Regions from separate parts of the Homo sapiens genome. Here regions 1, 2 and 4 are each reported to be linked to region 3. The links are microRNA targets in miRTarBase. Many come from high-throughput screens and were not tested one by one. Region 3 holds a microRNA gene; each other region holds the end of a gene's coding sequence. Distances are from middle to middle.
Evidence for each region. The annotated mature microRNA hsa-miR-4439 reads GUGACUGAUACCUUGGAGGCAU and lies in region 3 at 1,128-1,149, shown strand. An mRNA with a match to its seed (bases 2 to 7 or 8) in the 3' UTR can be bound and repressed. Matches are read on the target gene's strand: a 7mer-m8 pairs with bases 2 to 8, a 7mer-A1 pairs with bases 2 to 7 and ends in A, and an 8mer does both.

Region 1 (4,201 bases), 24 Mb from region 3:
GGGGCTTCCCTCAGCAGTCAGCCAATTGGGACCAAACCATCCTCCTCTTCTCAGAGGGGAAGCTTAAGGAAAGTAGCAACTGGGCGTTCAGCCAAGGATAAAGAAACAGCCTCTGCCATCAAATCCAGTGAGAGCCCTCGAGATTCAGTAGTTCGCAAGCAGTATGTACAGCAACCAACTGATCTTAGTGTAGATTCAGTTGAGCTGACACCAATGAAGAAACACCTGAGCCTGCCTGCTGGCCAGGTGGTGCCAAAAATCAATAGCTTAAGTCTAATCCGGACAGCCAGTGCTTCCTCAAGTAAATCATTTGACTATGTAAATGGCAGTCAAGCAAGTACCAGCATTGGGGTTGGCACTGAGGGAGGTACTAATTTAGCAGCCAACAATGCTAATCGATACTCAACTGTCAGTCTGCAGGAAGACCGGCTAGGTCAAGCTGGCGAAGGTAAAGAGCTCCTCAGCCCAGGAGCCCCCTTGACCAAGCAGTCTCGATCCCCAAGTTTCAATATGCAGCTAATATCCCAGGTGTAGTTTTGACATCCTCCCTCATCTTTCTGCTTACCTTTTAAACTGAACATTTCATTGTGCAAGAAGACACTTCATCCCACATTGTGAAAATATTGGTCACTGTTATCAGATTTCATTTAGTTTAGGTATCTTCATACTGTATTTTGTATCAAAACAGCAATAAGGTTTTCTTTATCCCTCTTTCCTACATCTTCTCTTCACCTATCCCTTGTAAATGTGTTTGTGAAGCAGTATAAAATGGTTGCCTTTTCCATGCCTTCCTTTCTCCTTGGGTGATGTGCAATCCATCGTAGGCTGATCGGTCCCATTTCAACACTGTGAGACTGAGGGTACATTAGAGGAAATGGTGTATATGATCCCTATGAAACGATTCTTTGGCTTTTGTTTAAAAACAAAACGGGTTTGTTCTCATAATCTATAGAACTATGAAGATTACTGGATCATATTTTTTTCTCTTAACCAGGAGTGCCTCAGAGATTCTGCTATGACTTTGGACTTCTCTGAGTCTGTGCAATCATTTTCTGGAGAAGCATGGGGAAAGGTGGTAGACTGCTGCACTTTTTCATTAAAATGAGGGTAGCTCTTTCTCCACCCCCCCATCTCCTTTATCCCGAAGACATAAATGTTCAATTACGGAGGCATTTAAATCAAGTTGTGACCACCTCCATTGGAGGGCAGGACTCTTGATTGTGTAATTGATAATGCACTTTCTCAATGGCTGTATAGTCATTATTAACGTGTCTTCCCTCTTCCCCACAAGGACATATAAGGTCATTTCTGTCCTTCAAGTTTGGCCAACTAACAAATCAGAATCTGAGGGGCATGTTCTATTTCCCAGGAATGATTGACACTTTGGTGCTGGGGTTTTGTGGGGGCGGGGGGTAGTTTTTGTTTAGCTTTTGTGGAGATTGTGTGTGTGAGAGGAGATTTGATTTTTTTTTCTTCTTTTCCTTTGTGAGCTGATGGCTGAAGTGTAACAGTACATCTTCAGGTAAAGAGAGGGATTTCTCAATCTACTTTCTGTTATGTCAGACTATAAGAGAAACCCTTTCAGCTGCTTTCTAGATGTACCTAAATTCAGTCAGACATTTTGGATTAAGAAACCTAAAGTCCTGATACATTACATACTCCAAGGAAATATATCAGGGACAGACAATTGGCTGAAACACTGATACTTCAATGTGACACATTTTTATAGAACATTTCTACCAGGGGGTACTGACCTTGATTTCTCCTACAAGGACCACACTGCCTTTGTGTTTAATGTAATGCAATTTGTGTACCTTCTAATCATATATCTGCAGTTCCTCATTTTTATAAAACTTTGATATCATGCCAGTAAGCTAGATGTTGAATGTATGTAAGTAGCATTTGGTAACTGCTAAGAGGTTACAAAAACATTATTGGTAAAAAAAATTTCCTTAGTTCTGATCTGGTTGGATAAGATTTTATCATAACTTTTCTGGGTCTCAGGCTCTGATGTTTGAAAAAGAAGGGAATATATTGGGTTTTAAAAAAGTGTATTGTGACTTAAACTGTTATAAGTTATCCTTCCACAGAATACATCAGAGCTATCAGTGCTTTGTACATTTAGATGTTTTTACTTGATTATTGTTTAAGAAAAATATACTGAATTTATAGAAAGCAAGTATTCTCCTAATTAGCAAAAGTTAAAATTTTATCTCTACCATTAAAATTACAATAGATTTTGATAAATAACCAGAAAAAACGCCTTTTTTTTTTTCACACCTAGCAATCCTCCCGTTTTTATTGTAAGGACTTTCTTTTTTCCCTAAGAGACTTTCTGTTAGACTCTTTATATATGAGATGCTTGTTTAAATATGGTGGTCTGTAACATTTTTCCAGCTCATGTGAAAATGGAAAACTAGAACCTGAACTAGTATCTACAACATTGCCAAAGTCCAGGGTAAAGCTAAAAGTTGATAAGTAGACAATTTATTGTTTTGTGTGTGTCTGTGTGTGTGTGTGTGTGTGTGTGTGTGTGTGTATGGTGTGTATATGTATATATCACAAAGTTGTATTTTAAATATTTTAAATACCCTTTCTTTTAATTTAAGGGATGTCAAATAAATGAAAGGAGTTTAAAAATAGCCAAAATAAATGAGCTATAAAGGCCCATAACATACTAAAACAGGCAGTTTCAGGTATGTAAGGAAAGGAACATTATACTTACCTAGAAAGTGAGATCTAAAAAAAAATTAAAAATAAATAAAAAATAAAAAAGAAAGTGAGATCTTGGCTATGGCTGGAGGTCAGTCACTTTATGGCATAAATTATTTGGGAGGTAAAAAGACTGTTTTCAATTCAAATTGTGCATTTATTGGCATCTAAATCTAGCATGATTTTGGTTAGAGCACAAAAGAAATACCACATAATACCAAATCACAGCAAATGTTAGAATTAATACAACAAAATTTTCCTTTGGCTAGAAATCTTATGTTATACCTGAAAAATTGGTTTTAAAAAATGTTCATCTTGGCCGGGCACGGTGGCTCACGCCTGTAATCCCAACACTCTGGGAGGCTGAGGTGGGTGAATCATGAGGTCAGGAGTTCGAGACCAGCCTGGCCAACATGGTGAAACCCTGTCTCTACTAAAAATACAAAAAATTAGCTGGGCGTGGTGGCAGGCGCCTGTAATCCCAGCTACTCGGGAGGCTGAGGCAGGAGAATCTCTTGAACCTGGGAGGTGGAGGTTGCAGTGAGCCAAGAATGCACTACTGTACTCCAGCCTAGGCAACAGTGCAAGACTCCATCTCTGAAAAAAAAAAAAAAAAAAAAAAAAAAAGTTCATCTTAGAGGATTTTATTTATCTGTATGTATATACATATATGTTTGTATGTATACATACCCACATTAACATTTTATGACCCTGTAACATTTGTTTTCTATTCTTTTAGGTGATGTGAATTGACCTCAGTGAAGAAACATTTCATTTAGTCTAAGCCTTGCATTCAGGGTCTTACAACAGATTTCTTGTGCAAGAATTATTATTAGTTAAAATGGAAGGTGTTAGTTTAACAAACTGAGAGTCAAATTTTCTAAGTTTTTAAATATGCATTTTAACATGCATTATTTTTGGCATTTAATTTAAAATAGTTTTGTTTCATGTATACAACAGCTGTTACAGATATATGCCAGCAATATTCATACTTTTTTAACAAGCTTTTGTTATATATTTTCTAATCTCCATAAAAGTCTAATCATCTATGAAAAAGATATTTAGGGAGAAAATACTTGTTTTCTGTAATAAAACAATTAGGTTGGTGCCATGTATGCCAAGTTGGATAAAAGAATACAAAGAAACAGCTGAAGGTTTTGGGAGCTCGCTCTGACATTAATTACTAGAAAGCAAACTAAAATGCAAAGTGAATAGTTAACTCAGAAGATTTGAATTTTTTGAAATAGGGTCTCACTCTGTCCTCTAGGCTAGAGTGCAGTGGCACTATCACGGCTCACTGCAGCCTCAACCTCCCTGGGCTCAGGTGATCTTCCCACCTCAGCCTCTGGAGTAGCTGGAACTCCAGGCATGCACCACCACACCTGGCTAATTTTTGTATTTTTAGTAGAGACGAGGTTTTGCCATGTTGCCCAGGCTGGTCTCGAACTCCTGGGCTTAAGAGATCCACCCACCTGGCCTCCCAGAAGTG
Region 2 (4,227 bases), not on the chromosome of region 3:
ATGATGTTTAATATGCAATGTCATTATAGCTGTTCTTAAAGAATACTATAGGGAGGTCAGATGCAGTGGTTCATGCCTGTAATCCAAGCATTTTGGGAGGCTGAAGTGGGTGGATCACTTGAGGTCAGGAGTTCAAGACCAGCCTGGACAACATGGTAAAACCCCATTTCTACTAAAAACATAAAAATTAGTTAGGTGTGGTGGCATGTGCCTGTAATCTCAGCTACTTGGGAGGCTGAGGCAGGAGACTCGCTTGAACCTGCAGGGTGGAGGTTGCAGTGAACTGAGATTGTGCCACTGCACTCCAGCCTGGGCAAAAGAATGAGACTCAGTCTCAAAAAAAAAAAAAAACAAACTCAAAAATGAAAATAAAGTTGCAGCCAAAGTGACTCAGATGTTAACCAAGCAAGGAAAACATTTTACTAACGATAACTAAATTGTGTTTGATTCTATCGGCTGAAGGACTGTGTCCAAAGTAAACTTAAGACTATTAAATTAGCCTTTTGGCAAGAATGGTTGCTTAAAGAATTGAGAACACTGGGAACAACATCAACAGTCAATAAAAAACAAGGCAAATGACCCTGAGTGGTTTTCCTTGGCTCTTGATGAGTCAACAGATGTTACTGACACTGCCTAGTTATTGCTTATTTGATAAGTCAATGCCAACGTTGAAGTGACTGAAATTAGTCTCTATGAATTATCTGTGTGGCACAATTACAAGCATGAATATTTTATAAGAAGAAAACACAAATTTCATGCAACCTGAAGTAGAATCTGCTAAGATGTGTTACAACTGGTGGTGTTAAAAATGTGTGAAGCAAAATGATTACGTTTGTCAAATTTATAAAGCCTGTGAAAAGGTAAGAAGGTATTTAAAATCTATGGTTATTTACTGTATTATTCATCAGCAGGTACTTTGTGGGATATATTTGATTCAATTTTGTATTACTGAACTACTGGTAGCAATGGTGAACTTCATTTGCTCTCATAGTTTCTGATAGATTAAACATCAATGGTTCAGTTATCTTTTGTCAGATACAGAAGATGAATATGCTGATTTGCCCAACCACATTGGCATAATAGTGTTAGTTCTATTGTGAGCTTTTGCGTTCAGGGCTGATATTGACATTTTTCTGAAAAAGAAGACATGTCCTCAATCACTATTATGGAACACTGAATGGCTTTGGAATTTAGCTTTTGCTCAAGACTTAATAAAATTTTGAAATGAATTCAAGCCAAAATTACAAGGCAAAACGTGTTTACAAGCAAAACATAAGTCATTTTGATGACAACATTGTTTGAATTACAAGTAACAACAAGCTGCTTTACACATTTCCTGTGCTATCAAAAGGTAAGACAAAGAAGCGAGATCTCCACTCTCACACAAATTTGTAGCTCACACCATAGTGCCTGCAGTATTTTTTGGAGTTTGCAAATGTAAAGGAAATTTCCATTTTTCAAAATCAATTTAACAGTGCAATTGAGGAGCTTCTGCCTAGTCTTCAATTGGAAGTGATTAAGCTGCAATGTAATAACATGCTAAAAGGAAAATATCCAGAGAAGAAGTAACCTTTCAAGTGATGAATATGCTCAACAAAAATCATATTCTCATGGATTAATGTAAGTATTTGACAATACCTATCTGCAAGGAATTTTCAGAAGTAAAATACATAAAATCTTATTACAGATCAGCATTAACAAATGAGTACTTACAATCAACTTTAATGACACGAAACATTAACTTTGATCCTCCCTGTAAATATTTAATTCTTTTCATTAGTAAACCCGTATTACAAAAAAAATTGTTCTAAATTATTGTTTTGAATTTTGTCAATAAAATTTTCGTGCAAATTTTATTTCTCTCTAGTTATTTAAGTATCTACATAACAATCTCAGTTTTACCTCTTAGCCCACAAAGCCTAAAATATTTACTATCTGGCCCTTTATAGAAAAAGTTTCCTGACCTCTGCCCTAGAGCCAGAAGCTACCCTGAACACCTAAAAGCACAGGTTTAATGCAATGCTTCAGAAGCCAGATGGCCTGGGTTTATATGTTGGCTCTGCCACTAGCAGCTGTATGATCATAAATAAATTCTTCAATCTTTCTTTGCCTCAGTTTCCTCATCTGTAAATGGGGGTAAGTAATGGCATTTATCTTACAGGGTTGTTGTGAGAATTGAATTAGTCAATGCAAAGCACAAGAAACAGTGCCAGGCACAAAGGAAGCATTCTCCTCATGTGACTACTGAACACTTGACATACATCGTTTTGTTAAAAAAATGAATTAATTCTGCTACTCAGAAAGTAGACAGAAAATATTTTGTGGCATGAAAAGGCACAGCTGTTTTGAACACAAAACTAATATTAACTGTAGTATAACAAAATTCATTGTCCTGTTAAGTGCAAAATCGTTATATTCCAGCATCCACACACCCTAGCAAGATATATATCTCTCTCTATATAATATATATAATTATATATATGTATATAATATATACATGTACATTACATATAATATAAATGTAATATATAATTATATAATATATAATATATACATGTATATATTAAAAATCATAAATGTGGATATATATTATCTATAATATGTATATATAATGTGTATATATAATATATATCTCCACATTTATGTTTTTTTATATAATTCAGAAACCTCAAAACTTTACCTTTCACAAAATGTTAAGGCATCTGCTTCTAACAGTTGGAAAGCTTTTTTTATTTAGTAGTTTACCTCTTATTCTTGATTATACCCAAATTTTTATATTGGCATTATCCAGTAGTGAAATAGACAAAAATATCAGAAGAAAAGTGGAAACACTACAATTTTTTTTAAGAGAAAGGGACTTGCTATATTGCCCAGGTTGGAGTGCAGTGGCTGCTCACAGGTGCAATCATAAGTACACTAGAGTCTCAAAATCCCATCTCAAGTAATCCTCCTGCCTCCACCTCCTGTGTCGCTAGGACTACAAGTGTGTGCCACCACACCTGGCTAGAAAAACTAAAAATTTTCCAGTTGAACAGTTAATCCAGAGAAATAACCAAACAGCTGGAAAAGCATGTCTCATTCTCCAACTAGCTCTGACCATTTTGTACATACCAAACAAAACACTTGCCAGGTCACAGGCTTAATAAGACATCCTTACATGAAGGTGTAAAAAATTAACTTTTTTTTTTGCATAAATGCCACGATACTTTATTGCTCAGTGTTCCTTTGAAAATAAGTTAGCATGATTCCATGTTATTCTTTTATCAATCATATTATTGACTAAAGCATATCACTGATTAACATAAGGTAAAAATAATATCCACTCATATTCTTGAAGAGAAGTGCTTGCAGTATTTTATGAAAACATTTGTGCACATTTTTACTTGATTTAATGGACAATTTCATATTTTTCTTTAAAATCTACAAATGTCTTAATTCTTACCATTAAAACAACTAAAAACAAAACCCAAAACCAATCCCAAAATTAAACCCCAACAAAGCACATTAATTTTAATACAGAACATATATTAAGTCACTGAGTAAAGCTCTTTTTTATGAACACTTTTGGAAAGCTTGCATTCAGTTCTAGCACAGCTCTGTTATCAATCTGCGAACAGAAGGACACATCAAGTAAAGAAAGATCTTTACAAGATTCCAGGAGTTTTCTTAAGGATGCCGGACTTACCATTCTTGTTCCTATTTAAGGGAAACAAAACAAAACAAAACAAAACACCTTAAGTATAACATTTATATAATGTGCTAACAATGAATCCATCCATGATTTATTGTTTGTAATGAACTTAAAATAACCCTTTACAAATTAAAATCATTTTTTCAAACATGACTTCATATTGAAATGGTTCTGTTAAAAAAGTAAAAGTTGAATTTTCCAGCCAATTTAGCATCTAGGACCTGAATCTTGCCAATATCCTACCCACTATCTTCATTCCTACCTCCTACCCCTTCAAATCAGCTCCTCCAGACTTTCCTATTTCTGTCACCCCAGTTCAAAATGGTTTTCACCATGCATTTGATGTAAAATGTGCAAGTGCGATATGACTTCACAAAGTATCAATTGTGTGGACAATGATAACTACTGTGACACTGCTAGCACCCCTGGCTAAAAGTAAGAAGCAACAAAATTACACAGGGTTCCTTTCTGATGAATGCAGCAAGGATTCAAGAAATCCCAGAGCTGGAAAAGATTTTCAATAGATCTGCCTGGGG
Region 3 (4,000 bases):
GACTTGGTTGATTTTCTTTGCTAAAGTTCAGAGTCTTTACTGTTTAAAAATCAGGATTAAATAGATGCATTTCAGTTTCGAAGGTATTATTTGCAGTAAAACTGCCAACATAAACATTTTATAAGAAAGCCATGTATGTCCTGAAGTCATAACTGCAGGCCTCTCTTTACCTTCACATTGGCTGGTGGCATTGATGTCAATATTCAACACTCTAAGAGTTAATTTAATTTGAATTTCATTTCTTCTTTAAAGTAACTTGATCTTGCAACCTCTTTTCTCTCTGGCTATGGAAAGAGTCACTTTAGGAAGCTGAAACTTCCAGCATGAATACTTCTAGCAGGTTTATTTGTGTGGCAAATATGTGCTTCTATCTCATTTTTTCTTTGTACCTGTGACTTATCTACCTACCTGAAAAGCCGTAAGTCCTTTCTGGCAACTACTGCGACATTGCCTCTTTTTCCTTTTTGTAATCATCTTCATTGGCGTGAAATCTTCTTTGAACTGATCATTTGGCAACACTTGCTTGCTGTGAAAGAACTTTGACTATATACATATGCTATGATAGATATCATATCAATATTTTCCATCACTACTTTTGCTTTGTCAGAAAACTCATGACTTGTTGTGAGTCAGAATGTGTCACAGCCAAGCTGTCTTCCAAACCTTGAAATATTTTACTATATTTTCCCTTCGAAGTATTTGACTCATCAGCTGAGAAGATATCAGGCCTTTTACCTACGTTTGGTTTGATTTAGAACCATGAAGATGATGGGATCAGTATGTCCTTGCTGTGCCGTTTAGCTTCTTAGCTGACCCATTTGATAGAGGCTGAATGCTTCCTTGGAAAAGTTTTGCAGGATTTATCTTGTTTCTCATTCTGCATTAGTTGATGTCTGTCTTTGAAAAAAAATTTTGATTTGCTTTTCTGTATTTCTTTTTCAACTTTTAATCTATATTCCCAACTCTAATTCATTCTGTAATAATGTTAACCCCCAAAATTGTATGAACTGTCTTATTTGAATCAAAAGATGAAGTGCCTGAACTGATCTTACGTTCCCTTTCCCAGTGTCCCTTCCCTTTCTCAAAGTCTGCTCTTCTAAAAGAAACTGATGTCAGCTAGGGTACCAGTGACTGATACCTTGGAGGCATTTTATCTAAGATACACACAAAGCAAATGCCTCTAAGGTATCAGTTTACCAGGCCAGGAGACAGAATTTTATATTTTCCTCTAGGTTGTCTAGGGGACAATATAAGATTCTGTCCCCTGGCCTGGCAAATTAATTGCATTCACCTCCCCAGTTCTTCATACTTCTCTCTATCCAGGCCCTTTGGGGGTGCCCTCCCACACTGAGTTTAGGCTTCTTGTTAAAATTTGCTTTGGCCCATGAGACACTAATAAACTAAACACAGCAAGGCTTAAAAGGTTCTTGACTGCCTCTTCTTCCTCTCTTGATCCTCTGCCATTGCCATAGGAAAATGCCTGGCTTGGTTGCTGGCAGATGAGATTTAAGGAAAAGAGCTGAATCTACCTGGTTATTCTAGCCAAGGCCCCACACACCCTCAGAACTGCCTAGTGGACCTGCAGCTGACTGCAGATGCATGAGTAAAGCCCCAGCCAATGCCAGAAGAACTGCCCAGACAACCTTTAGGCTCCTTAGCCACATGAAAAAATGGCTGCATTTTTTTCTATGCCCCTGAGTGTTTGGGGCAGTTTGTTACTCAGTTAACGGTTAACCAGTACAACTCTTAAAGAAATCTAATCCCTCAACTATGCAGGAGGGCAACACAAAGACTCTTGTTAGTCTCTCTGATCACATCCACATCAGCCTGCATGACTTGACCATATCATTAAATAAAGAGTAGGACTCCAGCGTACTATTGAGTCAAAATGAACATCTATAAACAAGTCTTTCCAGTGGCCAGTTTCAGTTCATTGCTTTGGAGAGTTTTCTCTTTGTAAGCAAACTCTGAATACAGTTTTCATGTTTTTGTTGTTGTTTTCTTTTTTCTTTCTTTTTTTTTTTTTGCCTTAGGGCTTGCCTTTGTCATTGTTCCCTTCAACTGCATTTCTGCATTTCTTCTCTGCAGACGACATTCTGCTAACCTTGCCAAGAGCCACCCAGGTGAAATGAGATTTGTAGGGAGACACTCAGGGAGATTAACAGATCTTTTTGCATGAAGAATAATTGCAAAAGTAATCTCTTATTTGATTGAAGCTAATAAGTGGACATAGTGGATATTATGGTCTTCTTTTTTGAAGTCTTACTAATTTAGAAATTCGGCTGAGTATTTTAATGTTCAGAGAGCTTCCCTTCTTAAGGTTTTACTGTTATAGAACTTAATATCACCTATTTTTTAATATTTTGATTCAGTGATTGATTTTCTTGGTAGGTAGAATATTACATCTTAGCGAAAAATTAAATACTCTTCTGTAGTTGGAAACTTTTTGTGAAGACATAAAATTTTAACCACTTAAACCTAATCTGTGACCCCCTTACTTAGGCGTCGACCCTGGTTTTTCAAGCATCTCTCCCTAGAGGGCGGTATAGCCTCACTTCATGATGTGGTCTTTCCAATGTTGGCTGCTGGCCCCATATCACCTGAGGCTGAAGTCCTTTAGATTACAAGATTGGAATATTTTTAGTAAATCTATCACCAGTAGAGCCTTCATCTTAACATGATAAATGTACAACTCACTGGACGTATTTGGCTTGAGATTTATGGCAAATCAGACACAGCTTATGAGAGGTGGAAACGGTGCTTGTTTAACATAACTGTGGCTGTTTGTTCAGGTCAATCCTAGTCTATCTTTGTGTCGACACATAGTAACCTGTGGGATATTATGGGCAGATAGTGGAGCATTGGATAGAGTACTAAGGACGATTCAGTGGACCTGTGCTCTCATTTTGGATATGTCATTACAGGTAGTACTTGCCCCACTTGGACTTTGGTTTCCTTATTTGTAAGATGAGACAGCCAGTCTCAATATTTTTTTCACAATCCCAGCAACTCTGTGATTTATGGTCTTTGGTACATAACAGTAGTTCTGTACAGTTTGGTAGAGGAAGTGATACCAGTGCTCCCAACTGCCAATTCAAAGGAAATGTAGGTAGTTACCCAGTGATATTTTGGTTAGCCTACAGAAGATATTTTAAATTCTGAGGAAAAGAAAATGCCAGCTGATCACTGAAACCCATAAATGCTAAATAAATAGTTTTTGTGTATCTTCTTAAAACATGAATATTCTTACAAAGTCAGCATAAAGTGTTGATATAAGACTGCCTCAGAAGAAAAAGTGTCCACTACTCACAATCTAGCACCATGCATAACAAAGAGTCTTCACTCAAGAAATGTTTGTGAATTCTCGGCAGGGCACAGTGACCCATGCCTGTAGTCCTAGCTACTCTGGAGGTTGAGGAGAGAGGATCAGTTGAGCCCAGGAATTTGAGTCCACCCTGGGCAACATAGCAAGACCTCATCTCTAAAGAAATAAAAAGTTTATGAATGAATGACAAGAAGACTAATCCCATGTTTGGTACAGCTTTTACTTCTAAAATACTCTTCAATATACTGAGTCAGGATTGATGCTCATGAACTTCCAGCCATGGCTTTAACTCTACTCCTTTGGGTGACATTTGAGCATATTGGATCTGCTATGCGTGGAAAGTCACTTTACTTTTATTTGCCCCCACTCCATTGAAAAAAAAAAATTAGATGATAGCAGCATTTCTTAAAGAACAGAATGCATATCCCTGATCATGCTCACAATTAGGCGTAATTCTTTTTTACATGACCATTTTTAAGTTTTCAAAAACAATTGTCAAGCCTGTTGTAGTCTTATCTTTCCAAAGCTAACCATCATTCTTCCGGACTTTTTTGTGGATGTTTTTTAATGTCTTCATTGCTCTCCTTGCAATCGGTCCTGCTTGTCTGTATCCTTCCTAATCTGTCTCCAAGAATTAAACACAATATTTCAAGTTTCATCACTGCCATGAAAACC
Region 4 (4,227 bases), not on the chromosome of region 3:
CAGCTAATGTTTTTGTTTTTGGTAGAGATTGGGTTTCATTGTGTTGCCCAGGCTGATTTCAAGCTTCTGGGCTCAAGTGATCTGCCCACTTTGGCCTCCCAAAGTGCTAGGATTACAGGCGTGAGCTACTGCGCCCGGCCTTGTTGGGGTTTTCAACCCATGTGGTGGTGAGAGGGGTCATTTAAAGATCATATTGATAAAGCAATGGTGTTGATTAAAGGAGCAATATTTTGAGAACAGGAAGCATATGCCTTGTTTTCTGTGTTTTTAAAATTAGATATTTGAAAAGCAACACAAATCATACTAAATAGTTAGTGCCATTTATTTTTTGTCCTCTCCCGGTGGTAAAACTTACTCTTTCTGTTTTTCTTGCAGAGCATGCTTGAGAAGGGAGGATAAAAACTTTCAGAATGAGCAAAACACCATCAACGTTAATTCCAGAGATGGAACATTTTTTTTCCTAGTGAGAAAACAACCCATTTGAAGAGAAGACCACTAATGAGAAGACCACTAAAGAGAGACATCAAGAATGGATTCAGCAGAATCATTTCACGTTTTGAACAGCAGCAGTTTGAAGGGCCAAAGCCTTGATCAGGGATCAGTCATTAAAGGACACTCTTGAGTATTAGTAAACCCTCTTATGATGATTAAAAGAGAAGGGCAGCCCTCTCCACCTTTTGGTACTTTCTATTCAACTTGCACTGACCATAAAATGTTTCTCTTCTGAACAAGCCCCATCATTTGGTGAACCTCCACCCTAACAAAGTAGGATGGGGTTGGGGGCTAAATTAATTGGAGTGGGGCGAGGAGAGAGCCAGAAAACATAGATCCGAGGGCAGCAGTGCTGGGTGGAGAGAGCCAGAAAACAGATCTGGAGGCAGCAGTGCTGGATGGAATTGTCTAGGCTGTGGCATGTTGGTTTTGTCTTTCTTTTCTCCTTTGATTATGTAAGAGCTATTTCATTATAACTTATTATGGTGATTATACAGGCAAGAAGACAAAAAGGAGAGAAAATGTACCTCTTCTACTGGAATAATGTTTATGATTACAAGTGAGATAAGGTATTTTTATCAATATGAAGGCAACCTTGGCTGATAAAACCTCTATAGTGAATACTCACATCTTTACTTCACTCACTATCAATAATAAATATATTTTCTGACAAAGACTGGCATTGTAGCTCCTCACACATTCCTTTGGCTGGGTTAGATGTCTATGCTTACGGGAATTGAGCTGATTTATATTGTTAATAATTTGCATTTGTGCTGTACCTTTCCTCTCAAAGGCTCCAGAGCATTTCGTGGAGCCTCCGACAGGCAAGTGATGCTTATAACTTGCCTATCAGGTAGGTAGAATTCGGGAAGATCTTTACAAATTGTGTGAACTTTCCTTTCTTTGGGATGACTTAAGTCATCCTGCCTGGGGCAAGAACTAGATTAGATAACCTTGGTTAGGACCTTCTGACCCTGCAATACTAAAAAACGTTTAAAGAAAATAATTCAACCATTAGGTTTTTTTTTCCTCTTTCCAATTTTTCAAAACTTCCTGATTATAACTCTCCCTTTTTTTTTTTTTTTTTTTTAACCATGATTGGTGCTTCAACCCTGGAGTTGAGTGAGTTGGAAATAAGTAGTCACACTGAAGCTAAATGAGAAGGTTCTTTTCAGACATAGGAGTACCAGTGCTCTGTGATATCCTTTAAGTGTCTTTTGTCATGTAGGATTTTTATTTTATTACGAAGCAAGTGAATTTAGCAAAATACAGGTTCTGTATTCTTAATCTGTGTACAAATTCTGGCTCTGCTGTGGAATTCAACCAAGTCAACCAATACTTCTTCAACTGCAAAAAGGGGGCAAATGGAAGAACTAATTTTTAGGCTTACAGTGAAGAGTCCAAATGCTGACTCACCGCATACGTTTGGTCAGACCCAGTAAATGCTGGCTTGTGTGATGATTCAGTAAACTGGCATTTGGCGTTGGGGGCATAGAACGTATTCACATGCCCAAGTACCTTTTATTTAAAGTTGGATGTACTTGTGATGGAACAGTCTCAGCCAACGCATGTGAGTGTAACTGCAGCTGCTTATTCATTCAGGTTCCCCAGGCGATGGCTCCCTCCGAGTGACATGTTCATAGACACTTGGGGACACACCTGCTGGCCTAACGTTGATTCTGAGCAACACTAGAGGCTCTCCTGCCATAATTACTGATATCCTCTGTGATGACTGCTTCATGAAGTTTTTTTTGTTTGGGTTTTTTTGTTTTGTTTTGTTTTGTGGGGGGCTTTCAGGTTTCTTTTTTAATGGTCTGAAAGAAGCTGAGTTTATTTCAGTGTGAATAAGGATTCACTGGTAACTTGAGGAGCAGCACATTTTGATGCTGTCAGGGTGGCATCCAGGTAGCTGCCTGAGAGAAATGGAAAAACCTGAGAGACACAAAAACAAATGTTTACATGGCGACTTGCTCTAGTGTTTGCAAATCAGCTAACTCACAAATTCCCTCCTATACTGTTTTGTTTTGCAATTGAGAGCCAAGCACTTGGCACATCCCAGGCTGCCAGTCTTGCCTCTGGCAGGCAAATGCAGCGCTGTAGAGTCAGGCGTCTAAAGTGGGCGAAATCCAGGGGAAGGGGGGTTGGTTCGACAGGCCGCTCCTCCCAGCATTGCTTATTAATTTATCATTCTGATAAGCATGGTAGGTGCAAGACAAAAGCCAGCGCTTTGGGGAAGTAAAAGGATGAAATGATGCCTTTCTCTCCGTCCTTGGAGAGCTCCCTGCTGATGGCATCACAGCTCTGCCAGGTCACAGTAGCTTTCCAGACCACTGCTTGGGAAGAGTGTTGTGATTTATATGAGGCTGTGGAGTGGTACATTCCAATCAGTTTCTCACTTAAGTAGAATGCACCTTCAGCCACAGTAGCTTAGCTCATGAAGCCAAGAAGAATAAAGTGTCTTGAAAGCTGATCAGAGGATATCACACTAAACAAATGTTTGAGGAACTTATAGAACACAGCTGGGTTGAATCAGCACGAAGTCCTCTTTGAGAAGTCAATAACATTACAGTAAACTTGCCAACATGCACTAGTTTAGAAAAGTATTGACTAATCATGATTAGTAGCAAATGTAGACTGCTAAAAGCCAGATGCCTGTGGCCAGTTGGTCAACCCACAAGACTCCCTACAACAGTTTTTAGCTTAGAACTGACCAGGTAGTCACATGTCCTCGACTTCTCGGGCTGAGAAATGGAGAATGTGTGGTTCTTCACTTGCTGTCTTCCAGCCTGCAGGTATAATTGCTTTTGCCAGAAACCCACATTGCAGTGAGCTGTAGGAGATGACCCTTTTGAGATTTAAGAATTAAAGCAACAAAATCTCAGTTAGATTAGGAGGAATAGTTCAAGAGATCTGTTGTACAACATGCTGACTGGTTAATAATGTTACAACGTATTCGTGAAATAATTTTTTTAAAGAATTAGCAGTTGAACAATTGAAAGGGCAGCAGTAACTTGCTGTGATTCAAACCAAGTGAGTTAGGAAAATAGTCTGTTTAGAATTAATCCTCTTGAAAGGCTAATGTTGTGAATGAATGCGTTGATACTCATTGTTATCTCACTGCTCTCCTCCCGTCTTCCTCTCCCAAGTTTTCCCAGTCTCTGCTTCCTCCTCTCTTCTCTGCCATCTTCATTCCCTCCTCTAACCTCCTCTGTGTGTTTACACTTTTCTCAGTCTCTCCAGCCTCCCTCCAGAGAAGCAGTGACAACGGAGTGCACAGTGCATCCTCCTGAGTGCAGAGTCCTGGGCTCTTGATCCAGCTCTGCTCCATTTGTCAGTGGGGACAAGTCACCTCCCTCTGGTCTCTCACTGTACAGTGGCCTGTTCGGGGTCCTTTCCATTATGATTTGTGTTTTTTGATACTTCCCTTCTTTTCTTCCCCGGCCTCCTAAATCTTTTAGTCCTATATTTAGTACTTCCTCTCATTTAGTAATTTCTTATTCTTACAGTTCTTATAAACTGGGTAAATTTTCTAAATGAAAACTATATTTGTATTTCTTTCTCTGTGCCCTTGATGGTACTTTTCCTACAGCTTATGGTCTCCATTAGGTTTTTGTTTTCCATCAGTGCCCTGAGGGATTTACTCCGTGGGCAGGCTGCATCTAGTCTAGGAAGTCACCTTAGGACACGTAGGCCATTTGTGCTGATGACACCCACGGTCCAAACCACCCCCAGAAT

Region 1: the mRNA of HYCC2 is a reported target of hsa-miR-4439. Seed matches in the 3' UTR shown: 7mer-m8 at 1,609-1,615 and 7mer-m8 at 2,805-2,811.
Region 2: miRTarBase lists FBXL4 as a target of hsa-miR-4439. Seed matches in the 3' UTR shown: 7mer-m8 at 675-681.
Region 4: the mRNA of CHCHD3 is a reported target of hsa-miR-4439. Seed matches in the 3' UTR shown: 7mer-m8 at 599-605.

The regions. Positions count from the first base shown.
Region 1 is chr2:200,977,603-200,981,803 of GRCh38, reverse strand. HYCC2 (hyccin PI4KA lipid kinase complex subunit 2) reads left to right here. Exons shown (of 13, transcript NM_001321623.1): 13 at 1-4,201. The coding sequence ends at 534. All of the region lies in intron 1 of LOC105373835 (a long non-coding RNA gene), which reads right to left. Among named protein-coding and RNA genes, the nearest start is that of ORC2, 16 kb to the right of the region's middle.
Region 2 is chr6:98,870,746-98,874,972 of GRCh38, forward strand. FBXL4 (F-box and leucine rich repeat protein 4) reads right to left here. Exons shown (of 10, transcript NM_001278716.2): 10 at 1-3,696. The coding sequence ends at 3,533. Among named protein-coding and RNA genes, the nearest start is that of POU3F2, 38 kb to the left of the region's middle.
Region 3 is chr2:225,007,665-225,011,664 of GRCh38, reverse strand. MIR4439 (microRNA 4439) reads left to right here and starts at 1,125; the gene lies at 1,125-1,204. The region is part of intron 1 of DOCK10 (dedicator of cytokinesis 10); the gene reads left to right.
Region 4 is chr7:132,781,809-132,786,035 of GRCh38, reverse strand. CHCHD3 (coiled-coil-helix-coiled-coil-helix domain containing 3) reads left to right here. Exons shown (of 8, transcript NM_017812.4): 8 at 376-1,166. The coding sequence ends at 399. Among named protein-coding and RNA genes, the nearest start is that of FLJ40288, 140 kb to the right of the region's middle.